Linked DNA regions of Homo sapiens. The protein of the gene in region 2 purifies or fractionates together with the protein of the main gene of each other region. This does not show direct contact. Each region holds a gene or a part of one and is shown on either strand. Other genes may lie near its edges. The genes, in order: MYH10, ZIC3 and MYO1B.

Region 1 (3,654 bases), on a different chromosome or scaffold from region 2:
ATTATTGAACCTCAACTGATCATCCCAACTGGCTGGTTAATTCCAAAGCCCAATACATATTTATCACAATGCTAGCATGGCTCTCCCCATCCCCATCCTCTTAACGACACAGACTTCTTTGGAGTCAAGTTCTCCAACTAGAACCTTAGGTAAGAACCCTTTCTCCACCCAACTAATTGAAGATATGATCCTCCCAAACCCCGACCTCTGTGTGACCTTGAGACTTTGAGAAAAACTCAGATTCTCCTGTAGAAGGAGGCTGTGCTTTGAAAAGAAACTCAGAAGTTCACTCAGGTTGTCCATGAGTTAAGTTGGAAAAAAATCCAACAAACTCAGTAAGAGATAACTGTAAAATCTCTGAATTATGTGGAATGGCTGCAAAACAAAAACAAAAACAACAAAAAAACACCTGTCCTTTCTTTCATTCCTTTTCTACTTAGCACCCTTTGCAGCTACCTCCAGCTGCCAGTGTGGGAAATTAAGGTGAAGGCTGGCAGAAAAGCAGCCTGGCTCCTCTTCACACTGCACAGTTTTTGATGGTGACATCACATTTCCATACCTGCACAATTTATTGCAATGGGCTTCATCTGAAACTGATCAACCTCTCAAATCTTACATGTCGACATTACAATCTGACCATAACCTCTTAATTTTGCAGTTTTCTCACTCCTTCACCCCATGATCCCTGTTCCTCAACATTCTGAAAACTTCCAGGCCTTGATCCATCAGCCCCTCCCACCCAGACTCCCATTCCTACCGAACGAGGACTCCAAAGACGGCCACTGAATCCCCCTCTCACTGTGGAAGCCATGCAGATCCAAAGCCCCCCACACTCACAGACCTGAGACAATCCCATGGTCTGGCAAAATCACATAGCCAGGCAAAATTGCGGTCACCCTACACGTGGTTATTCAATCTCAGCTGGACTCTCAACGCCACTCTCCAGTCGCTTTCTTATCCCTGGCTTAGTCTGAAATTGGAAAAGGGTTGTTCCTAAGCCTTTCCATTCTCCTCAAGCCACCGTTCCAACCCTGTGGCCTCTTACTCTCCTACCTCATAGAGAAGAAAATAAGGGAGATCTATCAGGCTTGGTTGAAACTACTCTGGCAAAGGTCATGAATGAATCATTCTTTTCTCAGCTTTTCTCGTGGCTAGCTGCCTCCCACCAGTCAGACTCCAGCTCAAATGCTACCTTCACAAACAGCCCTTAACTGACCCGCTGGAGAAAGCCATTCTCCTACTTACTCTCTCCATAGCCTTGTTTCATTTCCTCATTGGACATTTCAGAAAGGCAGAGAGACCTGGCCTGTCTTCTTCACTGTACTATCCCCAGCACCTAGAGCACAGGGGGTGCTTAATAAATATTCCTTAAACTAATTCTGTAGGAAAACTAGCTCTGATTTACTGAAGTTTTGAATTATTCATGACCTTCAGTAGCACACTCCTTGTGTAAAATTCAACACCCCTTTTCCGATTTCAAACCACGACCATCAACTTTTCTTCCTACTTCCCTTCATCGTCAGTTTAAGTCCCACACGTGCCACCTTCTTCAAATCATTGCCACCTCTGTCTACCATTCCCTCAAACCTATTTTGTCATTTTAGATTTTTCTTTTAGTATCTGGCTTACATTTTTCCTCTCTACATTATCCCTCTCTACATTATCCCTTATGATTTTCAATAACTTCTTCTACATGGTCAGTGACAAAGTCGGTGACTCCAACATTCATGTCAGCTGCTAACCACAGGACGACCCCAGCCAGCCTCAATCTTACCCTAATTGTTTCCTCTTAAAAACCTCAGCATTCATCTTTCCTACTTCCCTACTACATCCAGTGAAGCTGTTCATGCTGTCCACAGAAATTTCTCAGCTTACAGCCCCTCCACTTTACTCTTGGGTATGCACTTGATTTTTGACCGTTTTGCTGTCTGCGTCCAATTAATGCAACTCTCTTTACCTTATTAAACCTTCTGGTCTTCCTGTTACATGCTCTCTCCCACCTTATTATGCTCCAGAAGACCACTACAAAAGTCTTCAAATGCCATTTTATTATATGTAATTGCAGCCTGTATTATTTAAACTTAATGTGTTAAGATTCAAAGAAAAGCAAGACATGGGTAAGCAAGCAACAAATCTTTCTATCTTAAAGAGAAATAGAAATGTTAAACAGAGAGTTTGGGTATTCCACATTCTCATTTGATTATGACAAGATGTATAATTTACATTAATTCCTAGCTACCACTTCACATGATTATTTGGAAGAAATACTTACATAGATTAGTCCTGAATAGTAGCGATCCTTCAGATTATGTAAAACGGAAGCTTCATTCAAGCATGTCAATTCTGCCATATCCTCCACCTTGGAAAACTTAGGTGGGTTCATCTTCTGAATATCATCTTTGTTGACCATTGCTTTCTTTCCATTCTCTGCCAACTCCACCATAACTTCATCTCCCCGTTCTTCTTTGATACTAGCTGCCTCAAAACCATGGCGTTCTGATGGAATCCACACTAGCTTTTTAGCTGTCCAATCAGCTTGAGTGGCAGGGTTGTAGATGACAGCCCTGTCCACAAAGAGATACCTCTCTGGATCCTCGAGTCCAGTTCTCTGCGCCATTGTAAATGGAACGATCCAAAAGCAATTGCCTCTAAGAGAAGAGGAGGAGGGCAAAATTAGATGTTTAAGAAACAAAAGAATGTACACGTTTTTCTTTTCTAAGAAACTTAAAACCTTAGATTAAGCATTAACTCTGTGTTAAGGAGCTGGGGTATACCTCTTCACAGCCATACTAACCGAGTTTCCAAGGTAAATTTCAGCGGTGACCACAAATTATGGCTCTGGTTGTCTGATGGGTTTGCCCTCAGTTACTGAGGGCAAAAAAAAGAAAAGAAAAGAAAAGAAAAGGCAAAGTTACAAGTTGACCCTTTTTTTTCTTTATCTCCTCTTTCACCCTCACCACAAATTAAACAGGGAGTTAAGAAGGGAAAAAAAAAAAGAAAACAAAGATGGGTAATAAAAGGTTCATGAAGTGGTACCAGAATTAATATGACCACAAGGAAACAGCTACAAAAACACATGATTGTCAGAAGAGTAAAGAATCTAAAGAATCTAAAACATGCCTCTCATTCTACCCTCAGATAACAGACTTAAAGTTCTTCTTATGAATAACCCAAATCAGTCTCCCTCTAGCTTTTCTATGGCCCCATGAGGTCTTAATGTGATCAACTGGGACCACAAAAGACAAGCATAACTTGGCTTCACACGGCAGCCTTTTGAATATGTCATGGTAGCAGTTCAGGCCTCTATTCCCATCCTGCAGCTCCTCCACCCCTCATTCACCAAGACTCCTTCCCCTGCCGGATCTCTCGCCTAAACAGACTCCAACATGCTGCTTGTCTTCCCTCTAAAGTGTGTGGCCCAGAAGCAAACATCATAGCCCAGATATGGTCTGACCAGTGCAGAAGAAAAAGGAACCATCAACTATCTTAGCCACATTGAGGAAAGTACTGGTTCTGTGACATTTACAATTAATGTATCTCAAGACCTAGTTGTTTTATTTAGCACCCATTTACCATTGGCTCACAAAGGGCTAGCAGAGGAAGCTCCATCACTTTGTGGCTAAGCTATGTCCCCTCCTCTACTTGTGCACTGGC
Region 2 (3,630 bases):
CTACTTCCACGTAAAGTTAGGTTAGATTGAGGGTGGGGGAGGGAACTCATGGAGAAAGTGGTAAATTATGGAAGTTCATTGTACAGTTCAGAAGAAAAATACACTATTTAGATTTCACAATGGAACACACTTAGAGCCAGTCTTATGAATATATACTTTCTGAGAACTTGCTGAGCATTTAAAATGGTCTCTGGTTTGAGGTGAAGGAAAAAGCCTGAAATAGGAATCTGGTCCAGCACCCTCAATGTCAAGGTCAAGATCGGAATGTCTGGGTTGGGAGTGATAGACTGACCAGGTTACCTGCTCATCACATGTGTAGTCATCCCAATCTCTGTTCATGGCATTCAGGCTTGGATATTGGTGGAAGAAAATGCAAAAGACCCCATTATTCTCCACTAACAAAAAATAGCCTCCAAAGCAATTTGCAATTAGAAACTGTCAATAACTAATTGTCTGTTGACAAAGATCAGTAGATAACTTAAATAGACTGCTTCAACCGCATTCACAGAATCAAAGTTTCTTTTAATCATCAGAAGTTCTGTAAGCATTTCAATTTTAGATTGATTTATTTGAACATGAAAAAAAATCAGGCACCAAATACAAAAATGTTATAACATAAATAAGATGTGCCAAGACTTTATTTCTTCAAAAAGAACAATAAACAAAATTCTAGAATTGAAAATGATCATATATAATACCAAATTGACTGCCACCAAAAACCTAGAGCATTGCCCCTTAAAGGAGGTACTTAAGCCTATTCAATACATTCTAAATACTTTACAATTCCTTATGTCCACCTTTCTGTTATTCATGCAGAGATTGGGCTCTCAATAACAAACAGCACCCTAATAAAAAAGGTCTCAATACTCTACCCACTCCAGCCCCCCAAAATAGCAATCAATTTCTTTTCCATATAACCACTGTAAAAGAACTGTTTGTCCAAATGAGTTGCTTCACTGAAGATTAAATGGATTGTTAACATTTTATCACAAAGCAAACAACCGTTTTTCATTGTTATTGATTTTAATGGAAACAATGCTCTTAACATCTTTGCCTACAAATCATGAACTTTAAAAATACATATTTTGCAATTTTTTTCCCATAGCATCATTTCAGAACTGCTGCAGTTATTACACCGCTATATAAATGTTATGGATAATTGCGATAATTATGAATTGAACTATATACAGCAAACAAATCAGCCTTTGCCTTCCAAAATTGTAAATGGACTATGGTTCTTTTAAGAAGCACTTTAACCATAAGTAAGCAATGCTCAACTGGCCTTACTCATCACCACTGTTTTAGACATAAGCTATCTTTTGAAAATATATAGATAGCTACTAGATAGATTGATAGGCAGATTAGATAAGTCATAGATACAAACATATATAGGTATATGGGTGATCTCTAGATAGAACAGACAGACATGCATCCTGCCGCAATTTTCATTTTTATGTAAGGTAATAAAGAACTAAGGGACATAAAATTCAGTAGGTTACCTTATGTTTATATATGTAGGGCAGGGATGATTAAATCCAGCTTCTCAGTCTTTGAAGTACAAGATTGAGATGTCATGGCCACTAACTGAATTGATCAGTAATATTTGATTTGCATGCCGAAAATCCAGGACAAACACATTTAAACTCGCAGTTAAACAACCATCTGAGATAGAGATAAAGAAAGGAGAGTCTTCCCAGATGGAAACTGACACTGTAAGGAATTTATACTGTAATAGAAAAATAATTTAACAATTAAAAAAGGGATCTGAGTGAGTTATAAATACCAACAAACAAGATTTAATTTGCTCACATCTCCTCTTTGTAGAAGAAGGCTGTTACAAAACAAGAGAAAGGAGTCAGTGGTTCCAAAATTGTAAATTGTGTTCTTCTTTCAAAACAATTTTTAATGCTAAAGCAGTTATAATCAAAAGCTGTACAGAATTTGTTAGAAAACATTTATCCATAAATATTGTTCAGTTCCCGGCACTTGTAGCAATAATTAAATTACAAACGATAAATATGGCATCAATGGATATGTATTTACAAAAAAAAAGTTATTACAAAAGGCAACTGTATACTAAACGTCACAATGTGTAGAGTAACATCACATCCTCAGCCTGAAAAAATACTGAACAACAGTTTCGACCCTATTAGACAAAAATACATTCACAAGTGTAATGCTTTGAGGAAAAGTTCAAGACATAACAGGACTTTGGCACGGTTTAAGACTGTGAGAGTTTAAACAATCACCACTAAGGCGAAAAAGAATTTCCATCAGTTTAACATCACCACCACCAACAAGCCTTCTATAACTTCCTCTCAAGAAACAGGACAAGTGTTAAAATGAATTGGAGGAGTTTAAGAATGGGGTGTGCAGAGAGCAAGAGGAAGGGGAAGAAAAAGTAGTGTAAAGATTTTGTAAAAAATGCTTCAAATGCCAAAACATATTTTCTATCCTGAGAAAAGGGCATGGCTACTTTTGGATCTTGCCCAAAACCTTCCTGGACAATTGCAATTAACAAGATGTAGCCCTATATATGGCCTCTTGCCTTAAAACTCCATTTCCATCTGATTGGTCTCAGTTTTCTTTTAAAAATGTATTTGGTCCATTCTATAATTAACAGGGTTTGTGTTTGTCCTCAGACGTACCATTCGTTAAAATTAGGAGGAAGTCCAGGGTTGTGGCTGGTGCTAGTTTGAACTGCAGAAGGGGTTTTAGTGGTATCTTTACTGTTTGCAGAAGCTATAGCGGGTGGAGTGGAAGATTCATAGCCTGAACTGGCAGCAGGGGAGGAATCTGACCCTTGAGATTCATGAACCTAAAATTAACATGTATATATTATAATGAATATAATTCCAACTGGCAATGTGCAAGCAAAAACAAGAGCAGAATTCGAGCACTGTAACAACAAGACCGCCCAGTGACCCACTTAAAAGAAAAATGCTGCTTAAAAAAAATCCGTATTACCGATGTCTAGAAAACCCGGAGATGTTCGCCAAAAACCAGTTTTGCTCCTAAGACTGGTGTTACGGAAAAGGAATAAAGCATTCCGTTTTGGTCATGCCACTTCAAAAATGCTTTCTCCGCGGATGGAGTGAGGTAAGCAGTACACTGTGAGGTCCTATAAAATACTAACTCCGGGCCCAGGTTTCACCAAGCCCGTTTCGGCTTGAGAAAGCAGGTACAGAGAAGGTGGCACAGGGGCCCTGAGCGCTGCGAAGTCGCAGACAAATGTGTGGGAATCAGATTGCACTCCTCGGCCCTATTGTTTTATCCGAAGCCAAAGAGCGAATGAACCACCCACCCTCGGGTTCGGCGCGGCTACTCTCGGTTCCCACCGCGGGCTGAGTCGGGAAGAGGCGGCCACGGCAGCCCCGCAAGCCCAGGCGAGCTCGGCTAGAGCTTCCCAGTAAACAACCGATTGTTCCCTCCGCTTCCTCCCCCTCCCAACTTTGCTCACTCCCGCCCACCCCCTCACCCCCACCCCCGCCCGGTCCCCAAAATGGGTTCAAGGTGTCACTGCTGGAGCAAATCGGATTTAACGTGGAAGACAGAGGGTTGGCAGCGCGGGCGCTTCCGTTCCGCGGCCCGGCGTCGGGCCGAGTGTTTACAAACCGCCGACCGCTAATA
Region 3 (3,654 bases), on a different chromosome or scaffold from region 2:
AGCAGCATCTGTATATGAAAGGAGAATCAAGCCTCTTCTCCTAGAATATGCCTCTAAATGGACAGAAGTAACCAAAGCAAACATTCAGAATCAGGGCAATTTTTTTTTTCCCAAACAAACTAATTTTTGTAAAAGGTTAACTGTACACTTATCACTAAGATATCAATTTCCCTAAAGACTTGTCGGGGGACTCTTTCAGGACAGGTTCATCAAAGGCACCAAGGAAAAACTGCTGCTTCAAGGAATCTATAAGCTTCATTTTGAGCTACAAAGTTCTGGCAATTTGCAAATACAAATTTAAATGCTTATGTTGTGGGTGGAGGATAAGGGAAGAAAAATCCACGTAGGTGGTCAGCGTTTCACAGCTCTCAGGATATAAAAGGCCAACTCCCATAAGAGCTGCCACTTTGCAGGGTGGTGGGAGGCTAAATTATTCCACCTCTCTCACTGCTGTGGGGTGAGTGTGCCACTATCCCTGAAAACTGATAAGACTACCCAAAAAGGACTTGGCTTGAAGTTAACTTTTTTTGGTTCCTATTCAACTGTGTTTTAAATTATAAAAATGCTAACAGGCTTTTAAATTGTTTCCTCAAAGATGTATTTTCCAGCCTGTAGTTTCTGAAGAGTCATCCACAGGAAATGTTCATTAAGAAGGTTATTCCCTAATTTAAAAATGTATAAAAAAAAAGCTGAATAAAATTAGTTGCTGAAGCAAGCATACAGACAAATTCTCCTGTTTGAATATGCTTTATATAACAGGCACTTTGGACAACTTTGGATTTAGACACTGTGTTTGACTTAAGGGAGTATGTATCACCTCAAGTAGCCACATCAGCTAACCAATGAAGTTGTACAATTTAAAATATTTAAACCCAGTGAGTCTGGCAATGTATATTCCTTTAATCCTTTAAAAGGAAGATATTTTAAATGTGTATAAAGTCACAGAGAATATAAACATAATTTACGTAATAAATGTGAATATACTCAGCATATAATACATTCTTTCTTTGGCCATTCATTGGAAGAAGCTTAAAGTTGTTACAGATTTGGCTTGAAATTGTACAATCTACTTTTTTATAAACACCAGATGAAAATGGGATTAGATTGCTGGGAGGAAGTGATGAATGCAGGAGATGTAAGACTATTGGGATAAACAGTCTTTACCAAGGACTTCACTTGCTGAACTTGGGATTGGTGTTCCTTCTTTTTCTGAGTCCACGGTGTCTAAAATAAAGGAACTGAACGTGCTGTACAGGCCACAGAAGTCATATCCGTTGAGTTAGCAGACCAAAGGGCACCACAGACCAGTGCTCAAGCAACACTCAAAAAGTACTGTCCTGGCTCGCTCTTTCATTTACCTTACAAATAAGTTTCTGACCTTGCTTGCTATGGCAGGAAGACTGGAATGGTGATTAAAGTATATTGCCAACAGAAATTTGGCTAGTCTTTGAAAACTACGGAAAAGGAACAGGAATTTACAATGCAAACGTATCTTAACAGCCTATATAATTTTTATGTTAAATGACTTCTAATTATTTAGTAAAGTGTTTGAGCTAATGCTAATGGAGTGAAACCAACAATCGTAACCTCATTTCATTAAACTGCACTATAGAAGCCATAGCTCAAATAAATGTGTTTACATCAAGCTGATTATAAAATGATTCACAGAACTAAAAATCACTCATCTAAGACTGAAATCAAACACCAGGCAAAACGGCGTACAAATATACTTGAGAAACTTTTATAATCCTGAATTTTATGGGTAAAGCAAAGCCATAATACCTAGATGGGTATAAAGCCTTCTTGTCTTTGAAGAGTTCACTGGCTTCTAGTTTCTCTTCATAAATAAGTTTCTGCTGGTCTGTGAATTGGTCCCTGTATTTTTTACACTGTGAGATATGAGAAGAAAGAAACAAAACATCATTTATATAAATAAATTATTACTCATTCTTAAATATGCTAAGACAATTTATCAGCAACAAGAATAAGGGAGAAAGTACAAAACATTCACTAAAAAAGGCCAAAAACATTTTTCCCTTGTGGGTTTTAAAAAGTTTGTCTTGGAAAACGTCAGAGTATTATTTGTATTGCAGAACCTGGAATGCTTCTTCAAAACACACCAGGGCCTAGTGGGCACGGGCCTTGCAAGTACTATTTCCTCCCACTATGTCAATCCTTGGAAATCCTCTAGTCCTGAGGCTGTCACTCTTCTAGAGAGACTCACAGTAAAAATATTGTGCATCACAATCCACTAAGCACATTTCCACACACATACAGAGAAAACTGACACAAAAGCGTCACAAAACAATACTCAATCCTTTCTATATATTGTACACTCTGCTATTTTCTATTCTATTGCATTTTATTGAAAAACGCTGGTAGTAATCCACTAAATTGATTTCATGACCACAAATATGCTATGACAGTTTGAAAACCACTGCTCCAAATCCCCCCACTACCATTTTACAATAGGGATGAGGGACCTGAGATATCCCCTTTCACTCCATCCCTGAAGCTGCAATGAGAGGAGACAGTGGCCAGAGGAGCAGGGCCAGGTTTTTTAGATGAGCATTCCTAGAAATTCAGTTACAGGTGTGGTCAAGTGCTACTGAAATAATTGCATGAAGAAGTGTGAGCATTGCTGCTGACCCTTTCCATGGAAAGGCTCCCTTCAGGAATAAACAGCCCTCATCTCCCACCTCCAATCCAATGGAGGGATGGGTGAGATTGCAAAGCCAGGGGAGGGCAGAGGTGGTGCAGATCCCCAGCAATGGGAGCTCCCTGTCATTATTTCTGAAAACAGTTTCTGGGTTAGACTCAAGAAAGGAGACAAGCCATTAAGAGGTTCATGAACCTCGCCAAATTTGCTGTTAGAGAACAGAACTCAGAATCTAGTTCCTTATGTTGTATGGTACCACTTATCAAGCTAATCAGCAATAATGTCACTCTATACATAGATGATTCTAACAAAAAAACAAGCCCACCGTGCTGGGCAGGAAAGTTTCCTGGAGGATGTGTGTACTGAGCATTCATTTACTAAATACATGCCCTTCCATCTCATGATTTTATTACATCTGATAACTGCATATATTTAACATTCCACATATCAACTGACTAGGTTATCGAAGTAAGGTCAACATCTATACAAGTGCCCCACGTGTTCCATGCTGGGCAACATCTAAATTACATGCCATGTCCTCTTATACAAAATAAGAGAGCTAAAATAAAAGGCAGTATAAAACAGATTTCCAGCTTCCCTGTAATTTAGATAGAGAATGTGTTACTATCTTTAGGGACAGGAAAAAGCCTTTTTTCCCACCCATCAAAGTGTGTGTGTTCACATGTATTATCTGATTATCTGTTCTGTACATCTGATAAAGTAAACTCTTCAATTTGCAGGATTTAACTATGTTGCCTGAAGGTGTCCAAATTTTATGATTTCTCTGTCCTACAGTATTCCTTTAGACAAAGAGAGAAACAAATGAACAAAAAACTGAACTACTTGAGAGCAGCTGGAACCTGGAATGGAAAGAAAATGCAGCCCTGTGCTCCCCGTTCCAGCCAGGGCCGAGAGGCGACCGCACAGGGAACGCCTGGGCCGCTGCAGGGGCTCTCGTAGAAACTCAATATGGTGCATGGGGGAAAATCACCAAA

The links.
Region 1: the proteins of ZIC3 (region 2) and MYH10 purify together in Homo sapiens (affinity purification with mass spectrometry; one large-scale study listed by BioGRID and IntAct). This does not show direct contact.
Region 3: the proteins of ZIC3 (region 2) and MYO1B purify together in Homo sapiens (affinity purification with mass spectrometry; one large-scale study listed by BioGRID and IntAct). This does not show direct contact.

What each region holds. Positions count from the first base shown.
Region 1 is NC_000017.11:8,620,630-8,624,283, forward strand, and holds part of MYH10 (myosin-10), read right to left. Parts: intron 2,649-3,654; 5' UTR 2,618-2,648; coding exon 2,273-2,617; intron 1-2,272. UniProt on the Homo sapiens protein: Cellular myosin that appears to play a role in cytokinesis, cell shape, and specialized functions such as secretion and capping. Involved with LARP6 in the stabilization of type I collagen mRNAs for CO1A1 and CO1A2.
Region 2 is NC_000023.11:137,569,079-137,572,708, reverse strand, and holds the end of ZIC3 (zinc finger protein ZIC 3), read right to left. Parts: intron 2,819-3,630; coding exon 2,639-2,818; 3' UTR 607-2,638; downstream 1-606. UniProt on the Homo sapiens protein: Acts as a transcriptional activator. Required in the earliest stages in both axial midline development and left-right (LR) asymmetry specification. Binds to the minimal GLI-consensus sequence 5'-GGGTGGTC-3'.
Region 3 is NC_000002.12:191,409,301-191,412,954, reverse strand, and holds part of MYO1B (unconventional myosin-Ib), read right to left. Parts: intron 1,890-3,654; coding exon 1,783-1,889; intron 1-1,782. UniProt on the Homo sapiens protein: Motor protein that may participate in process critical to neuronal development and function such as cell migration, neurite outgrowth and vesicular transport.